2 separate regions of the Homo sapiens genome follow, and region 2 is linked to region 1. The links come from fine-mapping of genetic effects on plasma protein levels. A gene starts in region 1. The other region holds a variant in brackets. All regions are shown on one strand. Distances are from middle to middle. Region 1 holds the start of FGF5 (fibroblast growth factor 5). Region 2 overlaps FGF5 (fibroblast growth factor 5).

The links. PIP is the posterior inclusion probability: the model's chance that the variant is causal. Protein levels are from antibody-based Olink assays in UK Biobank. Linkage for the fine-mapping came from a reference panel and not from the study's own genotypes, which makes the PIPs less certain.
Region 2: its variant is fine-mapped to the plasma level of the FGF5 protein (UK Biobank, PIP 0.91).

The regions. Positions count from the first base shown.
Region 1 is chr4:80,258,750-80,275,140 of GRCh38, reverse strand. It overlaps FGF5 (fibroblast growth factor 5), which reads right to left and starts at 8,477. Exons shown (of 3, transcript NM_004464.4): 1 at 7,962-8,477; 2 at 129-232. The coding sequence starts at 8,316. RefSeq lists enhancers at 5,938-6,508, 8,251-8,782, 11,299-11,800.
Region 2 is chr4:80,285,423-80,301,813 of GRCh38, reverse strand. FGF5 (fibroblast growth factor 5) reads right to left here. Exons shown (of 3, transcript NM_004464.4): 3 at 10,797-15,489. The coding sequence ends at 15,142. Among named protein-coding and RNA genes, the nearest start is that of FGF5, 27 kb to the right of the region's middle. The variant C/AC (reference allele first, on the strand shown) is at 7,712.

The DNA.
Region 1 (16,391 bases):
TAAAAATACTTTTTAAAAGTTAAGTTCTTTGGGCAAATTTTCTTACCTATGAATTTGGAAAATTATTCTGTTTTACAAATGTAAAATCTTTATAGCACCTTTAACAAATATAAAGTGGTTCTACTTACACTTGCATGGAGTTTTCCTTTTTTTGACATCGCTAAAAATTTGTTGCTGAAAACTCCTCGTATTCCTACAATCCCCTGAGACACAGCAAATATTTCCAAAACACCTAGGATGACAGAAATCCCAAAATAAAACACAGGCTCTTATTTATATCATTGTGAAGAATTAAATTTCTACATAGATTCTTTCCATTCTTTATTATTGTGATTTTAAAAAAGAACTTAGTATTTAACATCCTTATTGTTCATGACATTCACTATGTTAAAAACAAAGAAGGCTAGGATTCAAGTGTTCATTTAAAATAATTTCAAGATTCAAAAATTTGATTCTACTTCATCAGTAATTATTTGGACAAATAAGTTGCTTTTAGTAAACAATGAGCATGAAGTTTTCTCAGGTTTTAAAGAAATTAAAAAGACATTTAAAAAATGTTTTTCAAAATAATTCTCCTCCATTGTTTCTTCATCAAAGATAATACACTACTTTGAACATTAAAGCACAAATCTGTGCTCAAGACTAGTATAACTATTTGAAAGTCTGGAAAATAATACTTATTTACATTAAATAAATTCCTCTACTCTAATTATCAAGGTTATAATGGTAGTTACAAATAAACATATACCATACTCAGTCTTTTAGTGACTGCATTTAAAGACTACATATAAGATACTGAAAGCATTATAAATAACTTGAAATTATTGGTTCAATGAAATGTTTAATGGATTATGCTTTGAGACATCTTGCATTTTGAATCATTTCCTAGAAAAAAATTAATGAAATAATTTATTACATTGTTGTATAAATTTTGTATTTTATAGTTAGCATTATGAAGTCAATGTCCCTCTGTCTCCTACAGTAATTTCAAAATTCACGTCCACTGGATCAAGAGAATTACACACCACTGTTCATAGAGTAGTTTAATAAGATAAAACACATAGTCTGCACTTAATTAGAAAGCCTGCTTATTTAACATAAATTTATGTATTTTATATGAACATGAAAAGAGCATAATGTGTTTTATTAGTTGTCTATTTCAAAATTTTTAAAAAGAGACTTTTAGCTCAATAGAGCTATAATGTGTTTTATTAGTTGTCTATTTCAAAATTTTTAAAAAGAGATTTTTAGCTCAATAGAGCTAAAAAGGGACCTGTCTTAGAAAGGAAAAAGGGAAGCCAGGTGCAGTAGCTCACGCCTGTAATTCCAGCACTTTGGAAGGCTGAGGCTGAAGGATCGCCTGATACCAGGAGTTCAAGACCATCCTGGTCAAAATAGTGACACCGCATCTCTACTTTTAAAAAGGAAAAGAAGGAAGGAAGAAAAGAAGGAAACAAAGAAGGAAAGGGATGGAAAAAAGAACATCTCAATATTTCCATCTATAATATTCTAAGCATATATACTAATTAGGATATCTCAATAGGACTCTGCCAAATAGAGAAATTCATCAGATTTTCTTGAAATAGCAAACTCTCCCTGCAGTATTTGAGGTATATATAAAATTATTCTGTTTACCAAAAACAAGAAATATTTTATAAATATATGTGAGTAACTTTATTGAGCATTTATTTTGTGCAATGTGAGCTAACATCTATAATTCTAGCAAGCACTGCTGTTTATTTATTCAACTTGGTTTCTTAAAAAACTTGATTAGAAAGTTTATGTGAAAAAGGGGATAACTGAACAGCTTATTTAAAAAATAGATGTTTTTAGCCCAAAGTAAATAAAACACACTTTAGGGAAACTGCAGGTACCAGTTCACTAATAGGTGTTTCTTTAAATTGAAAAACAAAAATCAAAAACTATTGGAAACTACTTTTGCTTTTAGAAGGAAACTGAAAAAAAAAACCACCAGTGCTGTATAAATCCTTTCCTTCAAAATGTTTTTAAATGCTATTTATAATAGGATTTATTATGAACATTGTTTGAGTGTGCTTCTAAAGGTTTAGAAGCATTATCATTTTATCAAATATTAACAAAACACACCAAATGCTTTGTAAAGTTACTCTACACAGATGTAATATGTTATAATAATATTATTACTAAAGCATGACTATAACAGTGATACAAAGTTAAATTTCTATTGGAAATACGGAATGATATTGGGAATAGCATTAATGATTTTAGATATTTGGGAGATGGGGGATGTGATTGTGAATATTTATGTAAACATGTGCATTCAAAAATGAGAAAGAAAGAAAGAAGGAAATTGTATATGTGTGGAATGATGGATACAAAAGGGACAACATGGAGTTGATACAGGAGAGATTTGATTGTATATTTCCTCCAATTTACTCATGGTGCTAGATTGTTAGAGGCTTTTAATTCCATTCCCTGGAAAATTATCTGGTTTTGAACATGCAGATATATTGTATATTAATGAAAAAATACATGGCAGAATAAAAGATTAAAGTCTCATAAGTGTATGTGTTTATATGCTAACTTTTAAGATGTTGAGATAAAAAGGCTTTATAAATATTTGTTTTAATAGAAATACTACTGCTTTGCTTAAATAAATAGTTTCTGATAATTAGCTCATTCTCTCTTTAAACAAAGACCCATTTAGATGCATTTAACATGTATTTCAATACAGTGTACACTCTGTGTATATATTATGTACAAGTTGCATGTAATGTATTTTAAATATGGGGAAGATGAAATAATATATGTGAAAGTGTTATTATTGTATTACATATTGCTGGGTTTCTTCTTAAAACTTCCAGGATAAAAATGATATAGTGCCTGAGAATTAAAAGATTTTATAACCTTAAGAAAATTATCTTTAACTGAAAGCTTAAAAATACACTTTACATATGTCATTCTATTTAACATTATAAAGAATGCAGGAGATGTAAGAGATGAGACTAGATGAATGAATTATTTTTCACGTGAGTAACTTTGGTATTGATCTTCTAAATCTTACCGTAATTATGACCTAATATTAAGAACACTGTTATGATCATAATTTCCAAAGTAATGTCAGCAGTGATTTCACAATGCCTTGTTTTCTGGAGCAGATTCAATGAGTCTCACAGTTCAGTTTCCTGCCCTCCTCCCCAAAACATCACAGGCCTATTGATTTTGCTATGACAAATCTCAGTAACTCATTCAGGAATTCTACGTAATTTTTTAAACCCATGTGCCTTAAATCACAAATATATAAATTTCTGAAAACATTTCTCTGACATTGATTTTTTTTAATTTCAGTAATTTTCTGACCTTTATCATCGGGAGTCACGCATATTAAATTTGATGGAAACTTACAATTCTCCTTATGGATGCCAAGGCAGTATTTCTAAGCCAAACTGTGGAAGGCCAAGCTTGTCTTGTAGATGGTATATAGTCAATGACTGTTTGCTAAATTTGACTGCCTTCTTTGATCCTCTCACTACCTCTCTTTTCTCTTGTCAGGACACCCCATGCATACACAAGTATGGACAGGTGTCTTAGTACTCTCCTGCTACTGTGGCCTTCTCCTGCTTGAGAAGGCACGGGGTGGACGGGTGGCTCAGTGTAAATAAATTCACATTAAAGTGCTACAGACAGTGTGTTATTTTTCTTAAGGTGTTCCCATTTAAGAGGGTCAAAAGAAGAGGAGAATGCTTAACAGAAGGAATTATTCTCTTTGTGGAATTTCAGCATTGACACCTAGGCTGAAGAAGGCAAGAATGTCTTGGTGTCTCTCAGCTTATACACACAGTCTATTCCACTTATGCATTATGATGTAAGCTTACTTCCGTAAAAAAAAACATATTTCTAGATTTTTGACTTAGTCCTCTGCAGATTTCTTAATATAATAGGGCTCTACTGATAGTGGTTGATACAACTATACACATTTTTCCTTTTTCTCTCTTTTGTTAATGAATAAAATATAGAAAAGCACAGATATTCCATGTATTCAGAAGCTTTCAACAACGCATCTGAAAATCCCCAGACAAAAATATTTTAAAACTGAAGTTTCTCTACTTGCATCCACAAAGTAACAGATATGCTGTGCCAAGTTATGAAATCTGAATCTTGAAATATTCAGTTTAGCAGTCTTCACTGATTAAATTAGCAACAGAAATTTTCCACTTGATTTTTCTGCATAGTAGATATAGATTCTGATTTATCTAGGCTTGGGGGACTGTCTAATGACTCCACATGACCCCAAAATTGGTAGTGAATTTAGATTTTTTTAAAAAGCAGTAACATCGACGATTCTATTAACCAAAATATGTGCTTGGAATTTTCATATTTTATGTAAACGCTTTGACAAAGCCTTAAACTTTTCTTCCCTAAACTGACAACTACTTGATTGCCTATTCTTCAATGGCCCAAGGTAAGTCAACAGAAGCACTGTATTGACATTAAACTTGAAGGCGTATAAATTAAACCAAACCATTTGTTTCCATGCAATAGTTGGGTCATCTATCTTGCCTTGTTCATATTTCTTCATTTTTCCACAGTATTTCCTCATAATAAGGATTTATATACAATGAGCTTGATTTCATTTTCTGTGTTCAAAACTTGGGATAATTATTGTGTAAGAGAAGCTAAGAGTATATTAATTGGTCCATGTAAACTAAACAAATTATGTTTGAAAGTCCATGGCCATGGTGCACTTCTCATGGTGAAACCAGAAAACATTTGCAATTTGCAAAAAAAAAAAAAAAGTTTACTGTCAAATAATAGTTTGCGAAACACATATGATTATCTGTTCTATCAGACAAATACTACAGAATATTATTAGGTTTAAAATAACTTGTTAGAATGCAGTTTCATGGCAAAGCTTTGACTTTTCTGAAGTATCAGGGTTGTAACAAAAAGAATAGGTTTTCTATCATCACTAACTCACATACAGTAGAAATAGAAGATGAGATCAAACTGAGGTATCCTCTGTGGCCCTTGATCCAGCCCTCTCAGCCTCTCTTAGGAGATTTAAACACATTTCCTCACATACTCTAAGAAAGGCCATGGCCAACACCTTAGTTTACACGAATGTCAGGAAACATCAACTACTGCCTTCAAAGAGGTAAATGACCAATTGTAATTAGCAAGTTTCTGTTTCTCTTTTACAGCTAGGTAATGGCAGAGATCCATGTTAAATTCCCAAATTACATGCAAATTCTGCATTGATCAAAGGTAGTAAAAATTTTATGAAGTAGTATTAGACACTCCAGATATCACAAAGCAGAAAATTACTATGATTTGAATATTTGCTATGCTTTCTTCTGGGGAAAAAAAAAAAAACTCTATGGAAGACAAACAACACAAAAGTAACCAAAATATCATGCTTAGTGAGATAGGTATCTTATATTGGGTACATGATTTATGGCATGAATGAAAGCAAGTCATGTGAAAGACACAGAAACTAAACTCTGAAAGGTTATTGTAAACAAGAATAAATTAGGAAAAAGTTTAAATTAAGCTTTTTGTCGGCACTGTTTTAGGAAACATCCCTGTTCTCTTGTAGATATCTTTCAACATGGATTTTAAAAGAAAATGTACATGTTACATACTGGGTAGTGGTCAATGTCTTGTTTATCTGGGTGCACTCTTTTTGATCTGCTCTTATTTTCCCCCCTTTGCTTTTCTACAACACCCCCTCTAGCAAGGCCTAAGCTGTAAAACTACCTTCGTCTCATATAGTGTCTTCGTAGAGAAGATGGTGAATATCCTGGGAATGAGCCTTGCTTTCTGAGATCTCTAGCACACCTAAACCCTCCCCAGAAGCATTCTCTGAGCTCCCTGGGCTCCAACCTGCTGCTTGCTGCCTGCTAGTTTGGGGTCCGCCCTTGAGCTCACGGAAGTTATCCTCTGTTGGTGCTCTGTCATGTACCCAGGGAGAGTGGAAACATAGCCAGGAGACAGCAGCGCGCACAGTCACCTGTCTTTCAGTGTCAGCCTGGTTGCTCCTAGATGTTCCTAACTTGCTCCATCTCAGACCAATGACTCCACGGGTCGTTACAAGAAGAACAGAAGAAAGAAAGTTTTCTTGTAAGAGAGAAGGAAAGGTTGCCGGAAGTGGGAATAAGCTGTGATGGCTGATGGAGTCAAAAGACCGTTGAGACAAAATGAGAAGGACGAATGGAAATAAATAGATGTTACTGATTATTCCTCAAATCTCAGAAAATTCCATTTCACCCCAACAGATCTTGCCCTTTATCCCCCAAATGAGCAGTTATTCGATGAGTGAAATAAACTCTAAAATATGGAAATAGATTCCTCTCGGGAGTGTGAGGGAGGCCCTGGGACTCGCTGGTGCGTGTGCGGAGGGCCCTCTCTCCAGCTGGGCGCTCCAGGCGCCCTCACCACGTGCGCCGCAGGCTGCTGAATCAGCGCGATCAGATAGACTAGACAGGCGCAGAGGGGCGGGCATAGACCTGCTTTTCTCTCAGCATGAACCATCAGGTCTTCCGCATTAGGCCCCCTTAACCCACCGGAGGAGGCTAGCCAGCCTACCGCCTTACCCACTTGCGCGCCTCCGACCCCCCTCTGGAGACTGCTGGCTGCCAAATCTTCAGACCGCCGGTGGTGTCCACGCTCCTCTGGAGCCTGTGTAAGAAGGAGCCCAATGGCCCGTGGAGTCTTTGGTCTGAGATGGAGCAAGTTAGGAACATCTAGGAGCAACCAGGCTGACACTGAAACCAGGTGACTGTGAGCGCTGCTGTCTCCTGGCTACATTTCCGGTCTCCCTGGGTACCTGACAGGCCCTGGCTGGGGCTCTGCCTGGTGGACCAACCCGCGCTGGAAGAGCGATCTGGCCCTACTGAGCAAAAGCCCCACAGAGATCTCCCCACTCCTACTCACAGCCCCAAACCGTCCCTGCCCCCAGCTGCCTAGAGGCAGTGAAGAGAAACCAGAGGAGTGGCTGCGATGGTCTGGAAACATAGATGGGGTGGAAGGGAAGAGGAGATGAGAAAGGAAAAAAGAGAGCGTGCTGAAAGAAAAAACTCAGAGGGAAAATTTAAAACTTTGTTTATAAAAAGTCCTACAAAATCTGCACCCCTACCAAATTTAACCTCTGCGTTTCTTCTAAAATAAGGAACTTTCCCCTAACTGTTCTTGGGGACCAAAGGCTGGCCACTCTCCTAATACGGTGTAGTCATGGTCTCAAGATACTAAACATTGTTAAATCCAACTCTGGAGTTAGTAATTTCAATGTTTATCATGTCTCCCTCTCTAAACGCGTCCAGTTTTCTAGAGCACAATCTTCTTCCAAGCAGGAATGTCTGTCTGGTGTCCCCTAGTTATCTATCTGTCTGTCTATCTATCTGTGTATCTATCTATCTATCTATCTATCTACCTATGTGTATACATTGTATACATAGACTTATATACATATATACATATACATATACAATATTAATTTGAGGTTTATGGTAGCGGATGGAAGAGGGAAGTATTTGGGATTTGATTCTTCTTTTCAAAAAATAACTTCAGTTATGGATAGGGAGAAGGGCTGCCTTTGATGCCTAATGAAAAATGCCAGGCTAGTTCATAAGCAGAAGGTAAACAAATTGAGTGAGAAGAAATGAGTTTTTTGTTCTCTCCTGTCATGGCTGGGGACTCGTCTTTGAGGCTAGAGCAAACTGAAAACAAGGTACCCGTCTGGGCACCAGCCTCTAGGTAACATACACCTGAGAAATCGCAATTCCTCATGCCCAGGAGAGGGGTGCGTGTGCGCACGCCATATAGATGCATCTCCACCCAACCCGCCCGGCTGTTTCTGAGTATCAGCTTGGTCCCAGTGGCCTGGGCTCAGGAAGGTGAGCCTGTGTCCCGGCGAATACCTGCTGTCCCTCCCGAATCTTCCGCGGCCGCCTAGGACGGGTTTTGTAGGAGAGCGAGTAACTTACTTAACATATTGGCTTCGTGGGATCCATTGACTTTGCCATCCGGGTAGATCTGCAGATGGAAACCGATGCCCACTCTGCAGTAGAGGCTGCCGGTCCGGCGCCCCGAGGGGCTCCACTGGAAACTGCTCTGCTCCAAGCCACTTCCTTGGCTGCCCAGAGAAGCTGCGGGGGAGGAGGAGGCAGAAGAGGAAGACATAGCGCTACTGCTGCTCTGTCTGCTGCTGGAGCCTCTAGGGTTCCTATCAGTGGCAGCGGGTCCGGGTTGCCCTTTGGGGGCGAGACGCTTCTCCCCGTGAGCCCAGGCGCTGAGGATCAGGTGGCTGAAGAAGAGGAGGAGGAGGAAGGACAAGCTCATTCTTCCAGCCGCGGGGGTCCTAAGTGCATCTTGTAGGGCTGATTCTGGGCTCTGTAGCCCCTGTGCGGCTGCGTGCCTCTGGCTCTGCCCGCCTCGCCGCACCGGGTGGACATAGCCTCGGGGAAGAGAAGGGGAGAGGGGAAGAGAGAGGCCACCCGAGCGGATCTCCGCGCTGGCACCGGGATATTTATAACGCCAGTGATCTCACTGCTCCGTGCACGCCTGCGAAGCTTCCCCTCACCCGCGGCTTTGTGTACTCACTGGCCGGTGCGGGGAGGGAGCCTCGCGGTCCCGGGGGCGGGGGATGTGAAGGAGGGAGGAGATCCGAGCGAGTGAGTGGGAGGAGAAGCTGGGCTGAGAGAACCTGCGCCCCGGACGCTGGGTGCGCCCATACCAGGGCCACGCATCCCAGCAGTTCTCTCGCGTCGCGCGGCCACCCGGATTCCCCGACTAGGACCAGAGCCGCGTGGAAACGAGCTCGGCGTTAGCAGCTGAGTCCTCCAGGGGCAGCGATAGAAACGGAGGGTTGAAATGTGGAAATGGGTCCTTGTCCTCTCCCACCTCTACAGCACACTTGTGACTGGGCAACGCACTCTTGCCCCCCAGGACACGATTTCCAGGTTCTCCTCTCTTTGCCCTGTAAACCCTGCTATCTCGTCCTCTCTCTGGGAGCCCTTGGAGAAATGCGTCCCACCAGGAGATCCCACTGCTTCTACGTCTTTCGGCGTTGGAAAACCAAACAGGGATTCGCAGCCCAACTTGGGAAGCCTTTGGTGTGGCGCGGTTCGGGGAGAAGGCTGTTTTTGCTGTTATTAGCGATTTATTAAAGAGCTAAGGAATGGGTTTATTCAGCGTTTAAAACGCCACCCTGAGTCATCATGCCACGACTGGAGCTGCTTTCTTGTTGGAAACTCTCGGCTGCGCTGAACATTATGACGAATTTGTTTTTCCTTCTGGGAAGCTCTCCGTCTGTATTCGTGAGAGTGAGGGCACACGCACCCCCGCGCTCCGACCGGGGAAAGAGAGGCAGCGGCTGGACACCAGCACATGTAACTGACCGCCCAGTTGTCCTCTTTCGCCCCAGGATCCCCGTGGCAGGAAGGGTTAGCTAACTGCTCGCTTTAGCTTACCCAGACCTGCCATTGACTGAGGGACCGACCTCAGTGAATGATTAATGACGTGCGCGCTGGATTTCAACCTCAGGAAACCCGAGAAGGGAAAATTTCCTTGAGAACAGAGAATTTCCCTGTACGGGCAACGTCCCCAGACTGTTATTTATCTGGGAAATACACCTGACTTGCATGCTTGGAATGTTTCTGTCTAAAAACATATTTGAAACTTTAAACTAAGCTATGATACATTATTCATTGGTTATTTTAATGAAACGGCCCGTGCTATTGACTGATAAGGTCAATTCAGATGAACCAAGGTTGAAGCTAAGAAACGGCCTTACCCATTATTGAGTACCTACTTAAGGTTTTCCATCTCAATAATGAAACGCATATAAAACAATGCAGATTTTTCAGGTTTGGAATCTTCCACCGCCAGAGTAACATCAAAGTACTTGTAAAACAGAAGGTTACCTGGAAAGTGTAGTAAAACCACTGTGATAAAGAAAGAGGACATCACACATAGATGTGCATAACATGGGCACACTACATGAGATACTGTCCAGAGCTGAACACACCCCCTGTCCACTGTTCTAGGCTCAAGTTATATACTTCTCCCTTAACTAGGGTGGGTAGGCAGATCCTTACAAGGCAACCCTAAAAGTAGACATTGAGAACAGTCACAGTATCTCTCAGAATGGTCTACTTGACTGAAATCACCTTCTTCTGGGGAGGATGATTGTAGGATGGTTCTGAACCTGGGTGCTGTTCCTTCTTCAGGCAATGCCCTGAGGTCTGTGGCAAAGCTGTCAGGGTTTAAGCCACATTGATGCTGCTGAATGCCATTTGTAAGTTCCCCCATGCCACGCAAATACACAGCCCATTCCTCAAGTGACGAAGATTCTCCAAAGCAAATCCAGCTGCTTGTTTCTCCCTTTCCTTTTCCCAAGGAGTCTGCTGAAAGAGGAGGAGAGTGGTTCCTGCCCCAGCTGCACTATCAGCCCCCTGTCTAAACCCAGGAGGTCAAGAGGACTCTGGAGTCCAGTTTCTGGAGCTGTTATCAGCCTCTTGTCTTTGCTCCCTTCTCTCAGTTTCTGCAGCCCCGCCTGCACTGAAACAACCATCCTTGTTTCCCTCTCAACTCCCGCAAGAGCCAAACTGGGGATCAAATCCTTGCCTAGGGATGACCCAGGAAGGCAAAGACACCTGCTCAGGCTTTAGTCTACCTCAAACTGGAGGATGGCAAGATACACTTTTCTGGATTCCAAGGGCTTAGAAAGAGTCAGGGGCTCACTAAAAGGAGACAAGTGACCAGCTGTTGTGGACAGTGATTGAATTTGGCAAACCAGTCCTCAACGCCCGACTGTCTTCCATACTGGGGTGGGAGGATTGGGGGTTGGGCGGGCAGCCGAATGTGCCCACATACTCGGGGCTTAAAAGGAAATCTCCATTGGTGATCATAAGTGTGTAGGGTGGATGCTATTAAACTTTTTTTTTCACAAGAGAGTTATGTATTGGGGCCATTAAAAAAAGCTACAAAAACTGAACAGTGAAACATGAAAGACAGCACTGCGCTTGTTCCGTGAGCTGAGCTGCCAAGCCCCCTTCCTCCGCAGCTCAGCTGAGAGACGAAAGGGTCGCGCTATGCGCCAGGGCTGCGCCCGCCCTGGTCTACATCCTGCCTACCACTCTGAGCAGCCGATCTTCGAGAGCCTCTGTCCACAGCAATTCTGCAGTGGGGAATGTGGGGCGGGGAGCTATCTCAATTTACTGTTTTGGCTACCTCGAGCCCTACTCCTGTGAACTCCACCCAAAAGAGCGCAAGCCTGCACCACACTTTCTCTGGCGACTTTCCGAAAAGTTAATCGCCCAAAGCCCCCTGCTGGGGACATCTCAGCTTTCCCCATTAAGCCTCGGAGCTTGGTCCAGATCTCCAGGTCATGCGCGGATTCGAGCCCACAGCTCAGTTCTCCAATTCCTGCGTTCTCCCAGCCAGGAAAGCAAGGTTGGGAGAAGGCGCAAGCGCCCTGCTTCCTGCAGAGGTAAAACAAACGGCCCCGAAGATTAGTTTCCACTCATCGCCACCTGACAGACGACGGAAAAACTACCCAACAGATTAGCAGATTCCACCAGTCACCTAGGCGCCAGGCAGTGAGTGCGCGGGCTTCGGCTTAGGTCCCCACCCCCTCTTCTTGAGCTCTCTTTCAGCGGTGTCTCACCCCACTAGGCCTCACATTTCCTAGACCAACCCCCTCAGGGTCACTTTTCCTGGACCCCAGCATCTGAACTTTCTTTCCAGGCCTCCCCTATTTCTGTGTGGAAAACTGGTGGTGAATTTCCCCTATCCCTTTCGTAACTACAAGTGTGATCTGGTTACTAGAGACAGAAATCAATGCAAAAGAAGATAAAGTTACCGGTAACCTCTGGTTGGAACCCAGAAGCCTAAGAAAAGAGAAGTCAGGGTGTATAAGTCAAGTCAGAGCCCAATATTTCCTTCACTCTAGAGACCGTCTCAATATTTACAACATTCCCCTGGGTTTAAACTGAGGCCAGGCCTCACTGAGGCAAGGGTCCTGAAGGCAAGACTGTTCATCCTACAATGTCTCATGCTGGGTTGGAAGGACGGACAAGAGATAGATGATGGAATAGAATGAACAACCCTGGCAATGCAAGCCACTGTCCTGGGAGGCTGTCTGACCCAGGAACCAGGCTGCCACTGTGCCAGGCTGATCTTACACAGACTTCTGTTCCAAGAGCCTCAGTTACCCCAAAATCTCCACTCCTGGAGGTGCAGGTGCCATGAGAAATTTGCCTGTTCTGAGCTTTAAGATGACTGTACAGTTTGAAGGCAAGGCCAAATTTTCTTTGTTTGATCCAAAGAAAACCCAAGGATTTTTAGAATGCTTTCCTGGGATAGCTGTTTCAAACATGGTCCCAAAAGCCTCTGCACCCCACCCCTACCCAACTCTATATTCCTATCACCCTTTCATACTCTCAGGCTATACCCAGATAGTACTATCTTTTGTTAATCAGGTCCTGGGAGCCCCACAGTGGCCTCTAATTGCATACACTTTTTAGTAGAGACTGCTATGGACTGAATGTTTGGGTACCCAAAATTCAAGTTAAAACTCTGTTCTTTTATGTGATAGTATTTGGATATGGGGCTTTGGAAGTTAATCAGGTCATGAGGTGGGATTAGTGCATGCCCCTCTGCCTCCCCCTTATAAAAAGAGGAGAGAGCTTTCTTCCTCTCACAACCCCAATCCCTCAAATGAGGAAACAAGGAAGGAGTCCCTCCATGCTGGCACCCTGATCGCAGACTTCCCAACCTCCAGAACCATGAGAAATATGTTTGTTGTTTAAACCATTCTGTCCATGGTTGTCTTGTTATAGCAGCCCAAGCCAACTAAGACAGAAGCACAGTGCATTGCAGGACTCGGAAGCTAACCTGGTGGGGGCCCTCAGTCCAGGTTCTTGCCAGGACCCTCTATTTCCTCCAGGCCTGGCTTCTCACCAGCCAAGTTGGCAGCAACTACAGCAACAAATAGCCTGTGGCTAAAGGAGCACTGAGCTGGGAAGGGCCGGCTGTGTGAGGAAGAACCAAAGACCAAGAGGGACAGAAGAATGTGTGCAGTGTCTACTTTTAGGGTGATGAAGGTATAGTTACAAATTGTGCAAGTCCTGAGGTTAGACTTCTTTCTCCAGGGTCCAGTCCTTCCCTCTGAGAAGAGGCCTGTTTGCAAAAGGCCATTGGCCACTGGACATTATATCTGTGAAGTCAGAAAGTAAAACAGCATTTGCTACTAAAGAGAGGTACTTTGTGACCTAAGTGAACTCAAGGCAATCAGTTTTTCTCATAAAGCCCAACTCCTGTGCTTTCCAGTTATCCCAGTGACTATTTTTGTTTTAGCTTCTGGTACATCCATGCACTAAGTCCCAAACCACTATAGACCCCCAGTTATCCTAGCCTGCATTACCCAGTTGTAGGGAAATACTTTCTCTTAAGAACTGGAAGCCTTTTATCCTGTCTAAGGCCAGCCGTAGAAGATAAAGGATACAATTCCCTGTACTCCTTACACATGCATATGAAAATCATGATTTAAAAATCATACCACCTTTCCCTGCCTCCCAAATAAAGTCCTCTCTGCTCTTTGTAATGGGTTTTCTTACTGGTACAGTCTATATCTAATAATGTCAAAGGGGACATTCTAAACATATGTGGAGGGGTGCAGTACTTCCAGTCTTTTTTTTTTTTTTTTTTTTTTTTATGAAACAGGGTCTAATTCTGTCTCCCAGGCTAGAGTGCAGTGGCACAATCAGGGTTCACTGCAGCTTCCATCTCCTATGCTCAAGTGATCTTCGCACTTTAGCCTGCTGAGTAGCTGTAACTACAGGCACGCACCACCACACCTGGCTAGTTTTTGCATTTTTCATAGAGATGGGGGTTGAGGGGGGTTGGTCTCGCTATGTTGCCCAGGCTGGTCTCGAACTCCTGGGATCAAATGATTTGCCTGCCTTGGCCTCCCAAAGTGTTGGGATTACTGGCATGAGCCGCCAAGCCCGGCCTATACTTCCAGTCTTAATTCCTCAAAAGGAGTGCATTGGGTGGAAATCAGACTTTTCTTATCTATGAGAAAAGAAAAAAAAAGATAAATTAGCATAGCTGCTATTTGAATAGCTCTAGCATTTGGTTTGTATCCACAAAGACAGGCCATAAGCAAATGGGTACTCATTCAAGAAAAGTGGGAATAGAGGATGGGGGGAAAAACGTATGTCCTCTTCTAGAACATCTTTCCTGTGCCAAATGGGAAGGGCAGGAAGAGAACAGAAGTGAGACCAAGCCTGGTACCAGCAAGAAAACAGTAGGAAGCTGCTGGAACTATGATGCACGTGCTATCCATTCACCAGCCCATTCAAAGGCTGTTTGTTCAGAAAATAATTTGATCAAAGGTGACTTTTCAGACTAAGTCTGAGAGCCAGAACACACAGACAATGTTTTATTTATTTATTTTTCAAAATAAAGTGCTTAGGTTTCTTCAGGGGGACAATAATTGGAGATGCAACTCCAATTATTGGGGTGGGACTGCACCGAATCTGAAAGATGTCCTCAACAATAGCAAGTGGATAATTTGCTTCAGTTTAGTTTTTGGTGTGTTTTGTTGTTTTCTTTCAGGAAAAGTTTAGGCATCACATTCTAGAGAAATATTCTTTGCATACTTTTTCTGAAACCAGACACTTTATGGGAAGTCAAAAAGATGATTTTGACTTAAACAAAAGCTGTTAACAAAAATAAAAAAGAAAGAAAAAGAGAGAAGGGAAAGAAAGAAAAGAATTCCTTTTCCTGTGTCCTCTAAAAAGGGAATTATTTGTAAACTGCACTTTTGTCACCTTTAATCATTTTTTTTCAAATTGCAAATTAGCTAGCCCAACAATCTTGGACCATTTATTCAATAAGCACATTATAGGAGCATTTGATAATCATGGTATATAACAACTAAAATAGAACTTACGACACGTCCCCACTTTACCTCCCATGCAGTCATACACAAAATGAGATTTAAAATGGAGTAGAAAGACATGACACATACAACTTAGTTTTAATGTTGTGATCATTTGCTCGTATTATGACAATCATGCTGATAAATTCTGTTACTTCTCATATCTACTGTGTCCACACCCTTGGTCCATTTGCTTTTCATTTCAGTAGCTGGCCCAGGTCAGAGCAATGAGAAGGTCCTAAATTAGCTCCTAAAAAAAGAAAAAAAAGTGACTAATCTTACATTCACAGATTTTTTTTTAAAAAAAGAATTTACTTCATGCAAATCACCCTGCTGTCTTCCCTATCTTTGAAGCTCCTGTGTAATCCTTAAGGGAGGGTTTTAGGAGCATACAGCATATTACAATACGACTTTTCTTGGTTGTAAATGAGCAAATTTTCTGCTGGGAGCTAGAGGAGCACACAGTGGAACTCTGTGTTGTAACCAGGGTCACCATCAAACATATTGTGATTTGATTATTGCTTAGCTGTTTCAATTTTCTTATGATATATATGGTCTTAAGTAAATCATAAGTTCCTCAAAGGAAATCTGTCAGTATACACTGCCTTGTAATCCCCAGAATGCACAATAACTGAAATCCTAAATGAAGATCCTTAAAAGGAATGGCTTCAAAAGATGGCTTAATAATTATTTAAATTTTCTCCCCCAGAGAAGTGAGACTCTACAGCATTTAAAAGTATATGGTAATGGTGAATGATTTTTTTTTTTCCGCCTGCTCTTTCCTTTTTCTAGGGGAGTGAGGATTTGAAAGAGTGTGAGTGTGAGTGTGTGTGTGGGGGAAGGGTGTACGTACAAGTGTTTTCATCGTTTGCATCACCATGGCTCTTAATTACAGTAATCATTTTTGCAAATAGGCTTTGTTTTCTACTCTGAATCCCTGGCTTTTGGCAGGCTGCATTGGGCAAACACCTGTTGTCTGGTAAAACAGAGAAGCACCTGTCAGTGAAGCCACTAAGTACTAACTTAGGAGCTGTCATGGGGGTCTAGGGAATCTTTGCAATTGTCAGAAGAAAGGAAGGAGCACCTGCTTAGGGCCCAGGAGGGTCAAATGACAGCTTATTGACTTCTGACAGAAGATGTCGATGAATACATTCCCTTTCCTCTGCCTACTTCTGAGAAATGCAGCCTGTGGCCACAACGTCTGTTAATGAATGATTGACTGTGGCCAAATTTGAGGAAAAATCGCTTTTAAAGGAAATAGTTTAAGGAATATGAGGGCTTAGAGGCATCAAAAACTAAATGGCTTTTATAGGAGAATATCCAGCCGATAAGAGTGAAAGAGGGAAGTAATAAGAAACGGGAGAGGAAACAAAGAAATATTGACATGAAAAAAGGGACAAAGATGATTTTTTTCTATGTGATCATTTCCTTCAGAAAGTGACCATTTTGAGTGCATTAGTGGTTCTGG
Region 2 (16,391 bases), 27 kb before region 1:
TATGTAACAAGCCTATGTAAACAAACATGTTCTGCACATGTATCCTGGAACTTAAAGTAAAATAAAAGTAAATAAATAAATAAAATTAAAAACAAACCTGGCCGGGCGCAGTGGCTCACGCCTGTAATCCCAGCACGAGGTCAGGAGATCAAGACCATCCTGGCTAACACGGTGAAACCCCGTCTCTACTAAAAATACAAAAAAATTAGGGGCGTGGTGGCGGGTGCCTGTAGTCTCAGCTACTCGGGAGGCTGAGGCAGGGGAATGGTGTGAACCCGGGAGGCGGAGCTTGCAGTGAGCCAAGATCGTGCCACTGCACTCCAGCCTGGGCGACAGAGCCAGACTACGTTTCAAAAAACAAACAAACAAACCTTCTTCAGAGACATGGAAAAAAGGATAAGGGCCCAATAAAAAGTACACATAGTCTTAAACATGTTAAAAGTTTAAGAAATATACAAATACTATAATAAATAGAGCATCTTACCTTTAAAGGGGTCTGAAGTTTGCTTGTACTTAAGTTTCTAGTGTGTTCTGTGTAAAAGAAGAAGAGAAGAAATAAACTGAGAAAAAAAGCTTCTACCATAAAGGAAAGATAAAGAGAAAAAGAAAAGAGAACAGAGAGGAAAAATTCAAAAAAGCTTAAAAAGAGGGACAAAAATAGGAGGATGCATGCTGCGCTGCATGAGTAGGGTAGCAATAGAAAGGGTTGTGGCTTGTGAGGTATTGTCAAGTGGTTTGTATTAGCCTTCCCAGGCTGCCATAACAAAATACCACAGACTAGGTGGGTTAAACAACAAATTTATTTTTTCAGTTCTGGAAGCTGGAAGTCCCAGATCAAAGTGCCAGCAGATTCAGTTCCTATTGAGGGCTCTTTTGCCGGCTTACAGAGGGTTGCCTTGTTGCTTTCTCCTCACTTACTGTTTTTCTGTGCATGAGGGGAAAGAGAGCTCCAGTGTCTCTTCCTTTGTTTTTAAGGACCAGTCCTAATGGATTAGGGACTCATCCTTCTGACTTCATTTAACCTTAATTATCTCCTTAATGCCCACATCTCCAAATACAGTTATATTAGGGGTGAGGACTTCAACATATGAATTTTAGGGGGAAACAATTTAGTCCACAACATGTTTGAAGGAGGGGTATCTGATGGAAAATTGTAATGCCAGGTATGAATAGGTATGGCTTATTGATCTCATGAGGTATGTGTATGTATATATTGCGTATTCCCACATAGCTCAGTTCAGCTGAAATATCTAGTGTTTCTCACAGATGAAATTGCATATGAGTTAACACAAAATTTACATTATGCTCAAATTGTTTCCTAATCTATCAATGGAGTTGGAACAAATTAGGGTTTTCGAAACAACTGTTGTAGCAAAACTGACCGTACTCATTCAATCAATAAATATTACCTGAAACTATAAAACTACTGGAAGAAATGCTTCACAGCATAATTTTTATAGGAGAAACACTTCACGACATTGGGCTGGGTGAAAATTTTTTAAGTAAGACCTCAAAAGCACAGGCAACAAAAGCAAAAATAGACAAACGGGATTACATCAAATGAAAAAGCTTTCATACAGTGAATGAAACAAGAGTGAAAATAAAACCTACAGGATAGGAGAAAATATATGTAAACTATACATGTGACAAGGGGTTAATATCCGGTATATAAAGGGAACTCAATGCAAAAATAATAATAATAATAATAATAATAATAATAATCCAATTTAAAAGTGGGCAGAAGACCTTAGCAGACTTTGAAGACAAACAAATGGCCAACAGATATATGAAAAAAATGCTTAATGTCATTAATCATTTATGCTAAATACAAGTGAAAACCACAACAAAATACCACCTCACTCTAGTTAGAATGGCTATTATCAAAAAAGACAAAAGAAAACTATTGGCAAGGATGTGGAGAAAAGGGAACGCTTACACATGGTTTTTGGGATTGTAAATTAGTGCAGCAATTATGAAACACAGTAGGAAATTTCCTCAAAATATTAAAAACAAAACTACCCTATTACCCAGCAATCCCCCTACTAGGGATATATCCAACAGAAATATACATGTTGAAAATGTATCTGCACTCCCATGTTTATTGCAGCATTATTTACAATAGCTCATATATGGAATCAAATTAGTGTCCAACAATGGATAAACACATAAAGAAAATGTGGTAAATATACACAATAAAATACTTTTCAGCCATAAAAGAAAATGAAACCCTGTCATTTGGACAACATGGATGAACCTGGAGGATATAATTTTATGTGAAATAAGTCAAACACAGAAAAACAAATACAAAAGTTGATATTGTAGAAGCAGGTAGTGGAACAGTAATTACCAGAGACTAAGTGGGGAGGGGTGGGGGGAAGGAAAGATGGGGAGAGGTAGGTCAACAGGTACAAGTTACAATGAGATAGAAGGAATAAGTTCTAGTGTTCTGTTGCACAATAGGGTGACTATGGTTAACAATAATGTATTGTATAATACAAAATATCTAGAAGAGAGGCTTGTGAATGTTCTCACCACAAAAAAATGATAAATACATGAGATGATGGAAATGCTAGCTGCCCTAATTTGATCACTATATAACATATATGTGTATTGAAACATCAAATTGTATCCCATAAAGATGTACAATTATGTGTCAATTAAAAATGGTTTAATATTGGAAAAAAAGAAAGTATAATATTCACATTACTTTTGATGGATTATCCTAAAATTAATCAAAGAGTAGTTATGTATTTGTATATTTGCTGGTGAATGTCTCAGTTTTACGCCATACAGATATTTATTAATATTAATATGCTATTTAGTGTTGATCATAAGGCAGATCCTTAGAATCTTGACCACATCCAGCAAGGGCATAGATAAATTGTCTAGGGGAGCTTGCAAACATGGTGATACCACATTAGGGTTTAAGGCTTTCCTAATCCTTCTACAAAATTTACCTTACTGAAAAATTGGTAAATCGTTGGGAGGTTTTTCATGTTCGGCCAGAGAATTAATTGCACTTTCAGACAAACTTAGCATTCCAGTTGGAGAGCTTATTAGAATTAAAGCTTGACTAATCATTCTGGCTAATTGTATAGTTCACTTACTTTCAACCCTCTAGCCTTTTCTAGAATAGGGAATATTGTCATTCCAATAAATAAATAAATATCGAGTACCTCCTCTGTGGCAGGTCCACACCAGGAACCAGAAATCCTGCAGTGAAGAAGCCAAGCGAAGGGTCTTTACACAAGGTGTTTACATTCTATTGGGGGGAAACAGACTTACTTATATAACCCTGAGGAAATCAGTCAACACCAAAGTATACAAGATAATTAAGGAGCATGAAAAATGCACTAACAAAAATAAGAAGGGGATGAGATGGAGTAAGTAGGGGAAGACACTTCAAACAGTCATCAGGGAAGGCATCTCTGAGGAGAGAAGGAGTAGAATAGCTGAACAATTGGGGGAAAGGCATTCCAGGCATTGGGTTAAAGCAGAGTTAGTGAGGTGGAAGAGACTAGGGGATGGAACAAGAGAGGGAGGAAAGGACTAGCTCCATCTTAGTGGGCTGGGAAGCCACTGAAGAGTTCTGAGCAGGAAAAAGACGTGATTTCTGTTTTTAAAATTTCACTTTGACTTCTCTGTAAAATCCACTGTAGTGAGAAGAAGAGAGACCAGTTGAGAGGATATAGCAACAGGTCAAGCCAAAGATGAGATATGGAGTAGAGACAGAGAAAGAACTCAGAATTTGTTTAAAGGTTTAGCCAAAAGGAGTTGCTGGCGTACTGGATGAGGGTTATGAGAGAAAGGAAAGACACAAGAATGATTCCAAATTTTTGGCTCGAGTCACTGAATAAATCATCATGCTGTTTATTAAACTGTAGAAGTCTGGAAGCTTAACTGGTTTGGGAACAAGAGTTGAGTTTTGAACATGTCAGCCTTCAGATGCCTGTTAGATATCCTGTAGCAATATAGAATTGCTGCAACAGGCAGTTGGCTACGTGAATGTGAAATTCTGGGAGAGGTTGAGGCTGGAGATTTAAATGTGGAAGTCGTCAGCATACATCTGGTATGTAAGGCGGAGGTGAAATCACGTAGGAAGTGAGTTTACAGAAAGAACACAAAGGAGGCAAAAACTGAGCCCTGGGGTCCCACAAGGTTTACAGGTCAGGTAAAAGAGGAGCTAGCCAAAGAGACAGGAAGAAATAGCTGCTGAGGTAGCAGAAAGGCCAGGTGTATGTGGCACTTTGTAAAACATGTAAAAATGTGTTTTATGAAGAAAGGCTGACCAACTTTTTGAGAGACTTTCAGAAATGTCATTAATAAGTCCCAAATTGATCACATGCCTTGCATAATTTAGGAAAAGACAGTCCATGTGCCTTAGTATTATATGTACAAACACATACAGCTAATGTTTTGGGAGGCTGAGCAAAGAATTAAGGCCTCAAGATCACGCTTTGGATAAAGAATATTTTAGGCTTTGTATAGCCACTGAAACTTTTGAATTTTGTCTTGCTTATGAGTATAAACTTCTTTATGCCCATGAGAATGTTGAAATATGCCTTCATCTCTGATTGTAGAAAGAGGATCCTCTTCTTATTCCCCTCACACTTTTCTCTGGCAGTCCAGGCCCTCCCTTGTGCTTCCTGACCACAATACCTTTTCCCAGAGAATGGATTCCCCAGCAACACTCTGAGGCTGAGAGTAGCACACAGCACGTTCACAGGGAGTGATCTTCAGAGTTACAATTGTACATAGTAGTGCCAGACCTAGCAAATAAAACTACAGGATACCTATGCAATATTTGGAACATACTTATACAAAAAATTATTGTTTATCTAGAATTCAAATGTAGTCGAGAGTATTGTCTTGTATCTGTGTCCCTACCTGTAAGGAAATGAAAAAGGCAGGGTGGAGGGAGAAAATTGTCTTCTCTATGTCGGCAGCTGGGGCCTCAGCTGATCCTAGGGGTGCCTTGAAGCTGCTATGGCCCTTCATATTGATTAAAAATCGTGGCAAGGGGGTCAGGCCATTGTATTTCTGAATCAGCTAGTTATTGGCCTCAGGGTACCCTGGGAATGAATGTAACCTTGGTAGTTGCCTAAGGTAAGAGGCACGGCCTTGAGCAGCTGCATATTCAGCAGCTGAGTTATGAGCACTGAAAAGGGAATTTGGACCAAGCATCAAGGTATCTTAGGTTTAAATGCTAACTTCTTAGAAGCCATTCATTTCCTTTTAGGTGGTTTACTTCTATATCTAATTAGATAAGGCAGCTAAATATATTCTGAATGCTTTAAGTGCTACATTAAAACTAAAAAGCGCTGTTCAAAAGTAAGGTGGCAGTACTTATTACAGTAGTCCAGCTCTGCCCTCGTGGGATATATAGAGCATATTTTTTTAATTTTTCGTCTTCTCATCTAGACTACAAGCTTCTTGAGGGAAGAAACCAGGTCTTATTTATCTCTACACCCATCACTTGTGGCATATTTGGCATATAGTAAGTACTCAAACAATGTCTATGGAAAACAGACAGGGAATAACTAAGCAAACCATCCAAATGATAACTAACAAGAGTTAGACCTACCCTCTGCGAGGGTGGAGGGAAAGTGATATTAGGCCCCAAAAGCAACGTGCGACATCATTTTTATTTTTCCTCTTATTTTCTTAAGCAAAGCAAAACTGGCTCTACTTTCCCTGGCCTTTGAGTCTCTTTTTTAGGCAATTAATAAATCTCGACCAATCTCTGAATCATTCGGTTCACTAGATGTTCACTCAGTCACTGAGTGCATTATTGTTTGGATGCCTGATTCATGACATGTTTTAAAGAGCTAAGGAGACATGGATCCTTTCCCACTTGGGTCTCTTTAGGAAACTTTGGAAACTTCTGGAAACTTTGAGGGTCTTCTTCCTAAAGGGAAGAAGACATTCTACACTCTGGTGAGAAGAACAAGAGGCTCCTATTTCTCTCTTAACCTGAAACCTCACCTCTTATGAATGTTTCTTTCTATTAACCCTTGAGTGAATCACACTGATGCTTAATGATAATCCTCTGATGGACATGCTTTCTCTCTTAGAATGAGTGTTAACATGAAATGGTCTCCAGATTCCCTAAAGCCAGACTAGTGATCCCAAATTTTAACCACATTGGATCTTGCCTGCACATCCTGCCTCTGGCTGCACACCCACCTTTACGCCCACGGCATGAAGCTGTGACCACAGAGGCAGAAACTTGCAGGGTGGTCTTCTGAGCACACCCTAGGGGAAAGAGACATGAAATATTTATTGACTGCAGGCCAATGTTACAGGAACGCTGGCTGAAACCACTGCAAGGGTGCCTCTATAACAACCAAAGTAGACACAGCAACATTTGCCAACCCCCTTAAATGTCCTGGGGGAGGTTTGTTTGCACTAATCCTAGCAGTCCAAAAAGCAGCAGCTGTTCTCAAAGGAAGTCTGATATATATATATAATCCTTTATTTAAGACCAACAGTGGGAGGTGGTGTTTAATGAAAAAGGTGCTAAATTGTTAACAATGTTCTTGCTTCCAGCAAACAGGTAGAAAAAGAACTGAAATGTTAAGCAATACTCAGGACCATATTTAATAATACATCTTGATTTTTTAATTCATGCATTTTTTTCTGTGCTATAGACATCTTTGTCTTGGGAAATAAATTTGGGAAGCACAGGTGAGTTTTTTTCCAATTTCTGAGCAATCCTGGAATCAGATCGTATTGCTTTTCCAATCCCAGCTGTAAGGTAAATGTTTGTTATAGCAGATGGAATTAGAAAAGCCTGCACACAATTTTCTTACGTTCTATTGGATCCCTAATTATCTTAAAATAAGCATAGAAACATCTTGCATCTTTGATAACATCCTGTAGGTTAATATTCAATAAAAAATGCGATAAATTCCCAAAAGGAGCATCAAAGAAACTTGAGAGTTACTTCTAAAATGTGTAATGTAAACTACAGCTTAAGGTTTTGGATCCATCCTGGTAAACAGTGACCCAACATACTAAATTCCTTTGGCAAGAATAAGTGTCATTTTTAACCTACCAAGAACTGGATATCGTATTCTAAAGCTATGGTTCACTTCCCTAATATTATCAGCAAGAATGTAAATTTCCCTCAAACCAATGTGTTTAATTCTATTCCCAGAACCCCAGCATAATGCCAGGTATAAGGGGTTAAATGAACACTGAATGCTTTTATTAGAAACTTACTAGTGGTTTCTGCCATAAATTATTAGCAATCAAGAAATCATTATTCTTTTAGTTTGCTTGGCTCCTTTGGACCTTGGAGTTTTGCTAGACTGAGTTGATTTTGTGTCATTAAACATTAAACTCCCTTGACTAGTGGAGAAATCTTGTGGTTTGTGCTCTGCACCAGCAAGGTGGGATGCGTGTGTATTTTTCTCATTTGTTCGCTTGCTCACCAAATGGTAAAGGCTGAGAATCTTAGGCAACATGATATCTAAAGTGAAAACAAACTCTCTGTCAGAGCTGATCTGTTGTTTTACACAGTGATACAACAAATGTGGCAACATAAATAAATGGGCATGAATTTTCCTTCTAATCATAACTTAAAGGAACTCCAGATCTCAGACAAAATTTATGGTAGTTATTGCCATAACGGTTATTCTTTAATTACTTAAACAGAAAACATATTTTTCTCCCCTTTGAAATTCATCTTTTATGCAAAAAAAAAAAA[C/AC]AAGAATTGACTGAGAACATACGCTTTTATACTACTTTCTGTTTCCAGATTTGAAACTCATTCTCTCACATGCTCCATTAAGATGGTGACTGTTAGAGAAATCTTTGTATATTCTCCTTGTACAATTAATATTTTAGTATACAGGTATGCTTAATCTCAGACATTCTGTGTTAAGGCAAATGTAGGACAACTAGCTAACTTTAAAAAGTGCAAATATATAACCAGTGTCAGAAGTTATAGAATGCACACATCCTACAATGACAACCCTATCATAAAATGGAGTACTATCAGGGAAGCTCAGCCATAATTGCACTCAGGAAGGTAAAAGACATTGGTGTTTCCTCCTCAGCAGAAATTCACCTCCCTGTATGAAAATCTGATAAATTGTCCAGTTTCCCACAGAGGGAACGACAGAGAATTTAATGAGAAACACATTGGAGCTGGACCTGTCACTGTGTGATTATGCATTCACTAATCTCTCTGTAGGATACAGAAAAATGTCAGTCTTCTCTGAAAGAGTTTATCTAGGGAAAGGGACAAGCACATCTAGAAATAAATTACCAAAAAGAAATGTCTTTACTCTCCCACTGATACCTACTGGCATCCTACTAGACTGCTTGTTTGGCCTACAAATAGCAAAAGCACTGGGATTTGCACAGTAACCTATTTTTATGATTGCTAGTGAAATTGAAGTGTCATATGATGACATGTATTGATACTTAAATGCAGCTGCAAGTGCCTGATATTTTTAGTTTGGTCTAAAAATTTATGTTTGAGAACTTCAAGTACAGTAGGAGGGGCAGTGGATGTTCTTACTCTTATTGTAGGAGACATTTCATATTTAACATGAAATTCTCTTACCTGTCATCATCATTTTTGTCCGATAAATCTTATTCAGCACATGTATACATCCTAAAAGCATTTCTGAGCAACTAACATATGCCAGGAACCTATAATTATAATTACACACTAAGTTTTGTGAATAACTAGAATATCCAATAGCCTCTACAAAGTGTTTAAGCCAGAGGAACACATCATTCAAGTTTGCTTTTCGCTAAGAGCATTTATTGAGTTATTTTTATTAGCCTGATTTTAGGGTGGGAAATGTGCAATGAGGGCAGACATATTTTCTCCAGAAGTTCAAAATATGAGAGTACATTGAAGTAAATATACACAAGGAACTACTAAACAAGCACTGAGCAAGTCCAAGAATGTCTTGCTAGCTGAGTGCCTTGTGCAAGGAGGGATCTCAGAAAACATTTCCTGAATTTTTGGGAAAGTAAGGGAATGGTGACAGAAAATTGTGTCCTGAGCTATCTTATTTGGAGGCATGATGTCAAGAAGAAATTACTCATATTTCTTCAAGAATTTCTAGAAGACTTCATGTAGAATGGGGAACTTTAATCACAAAAGAGCTGTTTTTAAAATTGCATGTTTAATTAAGTAGGGCTATTTATTATCAACAATGATACCACTCTGACCATTCTTCCTCCAGGTTAATTCAAATTTTTTACATCCTTCATAAAATGCTAAGCCCAAAATCGATCCTAGCTTTGTAAATGTCTTGATCAAATCTCACACACTTATTCAGTGGATATTTTTTAAACTAAGAAAAGATCTTTTAAAAAGATCTATGTTTATAACTTCATTGACAGCTTTTTTTTTCACGTGGTTGTCCAGTTTCATCTGGACGTAAATTTAGTTTCATTAGAGAAGGAACTATGTCCCTTTTTATGATCTCATAGAACTTTCAACATTGTAAGAATCCTACAATCACTGGTAATAAATCTAGAAATCATGTTAGAGATCAAATGGTGAAGGGTAAAACAGGTGCTAGAGAGTGACTTGTGATATTTATGTCTGAATAAAGACAAAAACAATTTAATAAACTAAAACATAAATGAGAGTTCTTGGTTTATAATCTAATATTATTTTTATTGCATAAAATTGCTGAAATACTGATTGATGATGTGTAGCCCAGCTGACTGATTCAATGTCATAAAAATTCTTAGATGTCTACCAATGACTTTCTTCACAGAATTGGAAAAAACTACTTTAAAGTTCATATGGAACCAAAAAAGAGCCCGCATCACCAAGGCAATGCTAAGCCAAAAGAACAAAGCTGGAGGCATCACACTACCTGACTTCAAACTATACTACAAGGCTACAGTAACCAAAACAGCATGGTACTGGTACCAAAACAGAGATATAGATCAATGGAACAGAACAGAGCCCTCAGAAATAATGCTGCATATCTACAACTATCTGATCTTTGACAAACCTGACAAAAACAAGCAATGGGGAAAGGATTCCCTATTTAATAAATGGTGCTGGGAAAACTGGCTAGCCATATGTAGAAAGCTGAAACTGGATCCCTTCCTTACACTTTATACAAAAATTAATTCAAGATGGATTAAAGATTTAAATGTTAGACCTAAAACCATAAAAACCATAGAAGAAAACCTAGGCAATACCATTCAGGACATAGGCATGGGCAAGGACTTCATGTCTAAAACACCAAAAGCAATGGCAACAAAAGACAAAATTGACAAATGGGATCTAATTAAACTAAAGAGCTTCTGCACAGCAAAAGAAACTACCATCAGAGTGAACAGGCAACCTACAGAATGGGAGAAAATTTTTGCAATCTACTCATCTGACAAAGGGCTAATATCCAGAATCTACAATGAACTCAAACAAATTTACAAGAAAAAAACAAATAACCCCATCAAAAAGTGGGCTAAGGATAGGAACAGACACTTCTCAAAAGAAGACATTTATGCAGCCAAAAAACACATGAAAAAATGCTCATCGTCACTGGCCATCACAGAAATGCAAATCAAAACCACAATGAGATATCATCTCATACCTGTTAGAATGGCAATCATTAAAAAGGAAACAACAGGTGCTGGAGAGGATGTGGAGAAATAGGAACACTTTTACACTGTTGGTGGGACTGTAAACTAGTTCAACCATTGTGGAAGTCAGTGTGGCGATTCCTCAGGGATCTAGAACTAGAAATACCATTTGACCCAGCCATCCCACTACTGTGTATATACCCAAAGGATTATAAATCATGCTGCTATAAAGACACATGCACACATATGTTTATTGCAGCACTATTCACAATAGCAAAGACTTGGAACCAACCCAAATGTCCAACAATGATAGACTGGATTAAGAAAATGTGGCACATATACACCATGGAATACTATGCAGCCATAAAAAATGATGAGTTCATGTTCTTTGTAGGGACATGGATGAAGCTGGAAACCATCATTCTCAGCAAACTATTGCAAGGACCAAAAACCAAACACCACATATTCTCACTCATAGGTGGGAATTGAACAATAAGAACACATGGACACACGAAGGGGAACATCACATACCGGGGCCTGCTGTGGGGTGGGTGGAGAGGGGAGGGATAGCATTAGGAGATATACCTAATGCTGGATGACAGGTTGGTGGGTGCAGCACACCAGCATGGCACATGTGTGCATGTGTGACAGACATGTGCATTGTGGACATGTACCCTAGAACTTGAAGTATAATAATAATAAAATTTAAAAAAAAATTCTTAGATGTAAAGATGCCTCACCTGACTCCACTCAGGTTGGATCAGCATCTTGTTCCCTTTTCTCCCCTGAGACTTTCAAATAGGGCAGAGTAAGATGGAGGAGGTAACTCTTTGTCTCTGCTAATACCTAATCATATAATCTTATTTCAAAAATTGGCCAGTACAGTTGGATTGACTACAAAAAAAAATTAGGCCTTGTCCATTTATCCAGAGGTTTCCTTCAAAACTTTTAAAAAATTTTATCACCTAAAATGGATTTTAAATTATCAGAATTTAGATGTAGCAATTAAGTAAATCTTAAAGGAGGTGTAGAATTCCTTTAAGAAGTTATTGTCTGCTTCCCATTGCAGCAATGTCTGCAATACTACTTTTTTTAATGAGCCCAGAAACAATTCTCTGCAACTGTAAAAATTATGCCAGAATGCAAGTTTTTGGTTAGTGCCATAGTTTCGTTTTGTTATTGAAAATGGGATAAGTCATGATTTATTCCCTCCCTTCTATGGAAGGGTAAAAAATGTTAATGGTAAGAAAGTTATTACATTTTCTATTTCAAGATTGATTTAATAAGAAATTTACCTACCAGATTTATGATGTTTTATTTTTAGCTACAAGAAATAAAAGCTTAAAAATAACAGAAATAAAAGCCTTAGTTTTATATATGTAATTTTTATAATATATACACAAACTTGGAAATAACTTCTGTCAGTATCCCTTATTATTGTCACATGATTTTGAACTTCTGGACCAATATAATTCAGCTGAAAGAACCAAGAAAATTAATATGCACCTGTACTCTCAAATTAGTCTCTTTAGAAGGAAGTGAAGAGAGACTCTTGAAAGATAAATCACAGTGTTACTACATCTTATTGAAAATTTCTATTTATCTCTATAGATGTTCCACATAAAGAAATCTTAAATAATTAAACATAATATAATTGATAAAACTGACATGTTAGTCTGGAGATGTTTGTCACCTATAGACAAAATAGACTCCTAAATATTAATATAAAAGTTATTGTTGTGTTTAGATGAACATAACCATAACCAAATAATTTTATTTGATATTTGGTGGTTCTAGTTACTTAAAATAATAAAAAGCTACATAAGCAAGAACCCTCTTAGAAAGTTGTAAGCATTAGTATAGACTTATATTTATACATGTTTTCTGTACATAAGTTCATTTAATTAATTGATGTAGGTAACTTTATGCTTCACTAAGCATTAATTATACATCATTGTACCTGTAATCCCAGCACTTTGGGGAGGCCGAGGTGGGCAGATCATGAGGTCAGGACTATCAAGAGGCCAGGATTGAGACCATCCTGACCAACATGGTGAAACCCCGTCTCTACTAAAAATACAAAAATTAGCTGGCGTGGTGGCATGAGTCTGTAATCCCAGCTACTTGGGAGGCTGAGGCAGGAGAATCCCTTAAACCAGGGAGTTGGAGGTTGCAGTGAGCCGAGATCATGCCACTGCACTCCAGCCTGGTGACAGAGCAAGACTCTGTCTCAAAAAAAAAAAAAAAATCATTTTGTATGGCCAGTAAAGACAAGTGTAATTGTGTAATTTAATATTTTCTTTTTAATTTTAGCATGGCTTTAAATTTTGAAATTAATGATTCCTGACTTGCATAATATATATTTAGTAGCTATCCTACTTTCACGTTAATATGCTAATCAAATCAAACCAGGAGTATAAGATAAACTATTACATTTGAGTTTAATGTAGCCTACAAGCAACATTTAGCCTATACAACTTATGCATTGACGTGGCTTATTGTTGACCATCATTATTATCTTTCCCTTCACTTATTAGGAACATATGTTTACTAGTTCCTGTTTGGCAGCTAAAATTTTTCATGTGCCCTAAGAACTTGGTATACAGTGCACAATACTTAACAATAGATTAGAATAAACTAGAGTAATATTTTTAGCTTTAGGCTGTGTAAACAGGGTCATATGCCATTTGGATGAGAGTTGAACATACTAAAAAATTTCATTGTTTCATTTAACCCAGAAATACTTTAAAGTATAAATTAGTTCAATTTTTGTAGCATTTCATTTTATGCTATTTAAACATTATGCATTCAGTGGAAAGAATGCTTAATCAGATAATTGGCTTTATAATAAAACACTATACTGATGTATACATATAATGTTTTAGTTGATGGATGGGTTTTTTAATATATTATTTGTTATATATATGTGTGTACTATTTTCCCATCAAATTAAAGCAATCTGCTTATATGGTAGCTAGTTCAATTTTGGTAAGTTTCCACTTTGTATTTGTGCACCAAAATAAATCATAGTTTGCTTTAAGAAAAAAATAGTTTATAAGTACACTTTAAACATGTTTAAATGCAAACCATGAAGTTTCTATGAACCCTTTTGTTACTACTAAAGCCATATGTTTAGCCTTTAGCTATGCCTTTTTTGCCACATTTCTGAATGTAAGATAAACGTGTATTTTGCAGAACTTTATTAAAATGATTACCTGAGAATAAATTTTGTAAATTTTCTTAAGTTAAATTTTCTGTGATTTATGTCCAGCAGTCAGTATTTAGGTTGAAATTAAATGCCATTTCAACACAACAAATTCCCAAATTAAGTTACCTCTATCAAAAGGCCAGTTTTTTTAATAAACATCAGAAGTTTCCTTATAAAAGGGCACATCTATTCACTGGATTGGTTACCTTTAGGAAGGGAAGCTCAAAGAGTGTTTGACTGAGTAATAAGAATATTTCTGACAATGGGACTTGGCATGGATAACTGTTAAACCATTGATCTCCTTCAGTTCTCTATCATTTCTAAGTGTTTGCTCCCTGTGGATCTATACAGTGGGATAGCAGAGAGTCATAGAAGTATTTTTAAGCACTTGAATTTCATAGTGTATGCTTCATGGACAGAATAAAATGTATTCCTCCAGCTGTTCAAGAATGAGGGCAAGGGGGAGATAAAAAGAGAAATGAAGGCAAGACAGACTTAGATCTCAATAAATGTTGCAAACTTAGTGTACTTTTACCTCTAAATCCTTTTCCTTACCTCCCACATTTAATTCCATCAAAAAGTCCTTATATTTTCTCCTTGCTTCTAACCCATCATATCCCAGCCACCAAAGGTTTAGGATTCCACATAATGTCATGAATTGACATACACATACACACAAATCCAAGCTGAGCCTTTGGTGCTGTGAAAGAGAATTTAAACATTTTAAAATGTAAAACTAAACATATTATCTGAGGTATGGCTAGAAATAAAAACAATAAAAAAGTGCAGTGAATAGGAAAAATGTAAAAGATTTCCATATTACAAATGAGCTATAAACACATTTATAATTCATAAACAGCATAAAATGATTGCTTATGTCATATTAATTAAAATAATAAAAGTAAGAAAATATGCTCAATGCAGAGGTACTTTTAAGAAAACAAACAAAAAAAAACAAAAGTTAACAAAATATTTTATCTGCATCAAAATATTCTTTGGAAACCAAAAATAAAAATGTATCATGTATGTTCTTTCAGGTTAATCTGTAAAAGTCAGAAAAATACGTAGTCCCTGTTATTTAACTTTCCGAAAATACAAAGTTCTAAATATCCCTCAAGCATAAAGCAAAAGGCTTTATGTCTTGCTGAACTGAAGGAGTGTGCTCCCTGTATTAGTACAAAGAATTCCAGTTTCCTTCCTATCAAAAAACATTTTGTTTCAGTCACATTGAAACAAATGACGTGACTTCAATACAGTGTAAGTATAGCTGAAGCTGTGTCCAGTAATTTTTCTTCAGAACTCTGAAGACACCTATAGAAACTCCTGAGGGGAAAGAATGGTTTCTCACAAGGCCAAGAGGAATATTATCCAAAGCGAAACTTGAGTCTGTATTTCACTGAGTTGGTATTTTTCCGAGGTGCAGAAAGGGGAATCTTTGGCTTGATAGGGCTAGGTGGCTTTTTCTTTTCAGGAACAGTAACCGTGAAAGAAAGTTCTGGCTGCTCCGACTGCTTGAATCTTGGCAGAAAATGGGTAGAGATATGCTGGGGTTTAACCCGGGGGCTGCACCCTCGTTTGGCTTTTCCTCTTTTATTCAGGGCCACATACCACTCCCGCCCTGTTTTTTCAGTTCTATGTATTGCTGAGGCATAGGTATTATAGCTATTTTCTTGAAAACGCTCCCTGAACTTGCAGTCATCTGTGAACTTGGCCTAAGGAGGAGAAAAAAAGAGGAAATTTAAGTTGTGGCGATCTTTTCAGCATGTAATAAAACATAAGGTATTGTAGAAAAAAAAACAATAATTTTGTTGATCTCTGTTCCTCCTACTCAATTCCTTTTTATAAAGACATGTTTGCTTATTTTAAAGTTGCTTTAAAATTACTATTTTTCTTTCTATATTTCTACTTCATTTATCTTTGTAACACATTTCTGTTCCCTACTTACTTGGTGACATAATATCGATGACTATAAAAGTAACCAGAACTCTTGATACATTTAAACCCTGTTACTATTGTTTAAATACTTTGAAATGTATAGTTACAAATCTTTTTACATACTGTTTTTCCTCCTAACTCACTAAGAAAATAAATGGAACTATATTACTAAGAAATGATTGCCTGGTAAAATATAAATTCCTGTTCACAGAAATGAGGTCAAAATTATTCCTTTGAAACAAGCTTGCATTTTTTCAATGTTATCAGTGTGATTGAGGCTGCTGAGAGAGAAGTAGCATATGGCCCCCATTAATATTGCACGTGTTAGAGTTCTTTAGAAAAAAATAACGTATCTTTACTCAGGCATTACAGGAAAGTATATCTAACTCCAAGAAGAAAAAAGTCACTCGAGTTACTAACTACACTTTGGCCAGATCTTACACACACACAAAATATCTGCCCTTGAAATGCTTACAGAATAGTGGAAAAGCAGACAAGTAGACATCCGTCATGGTGCAGCTTGATAAATGGAATTATGACAGCGGTATGCAGAGGGTACAATGACAGCATAGAGGAAGGGCATCTAAGAGGGTGGAGGTGGCCAAGAAGAGGGCAGAAAAGTCTTCCTATAAAAGGTGACATTTGAGCTGAGTCTTCAAGTACAACTAGGAATGTTCTC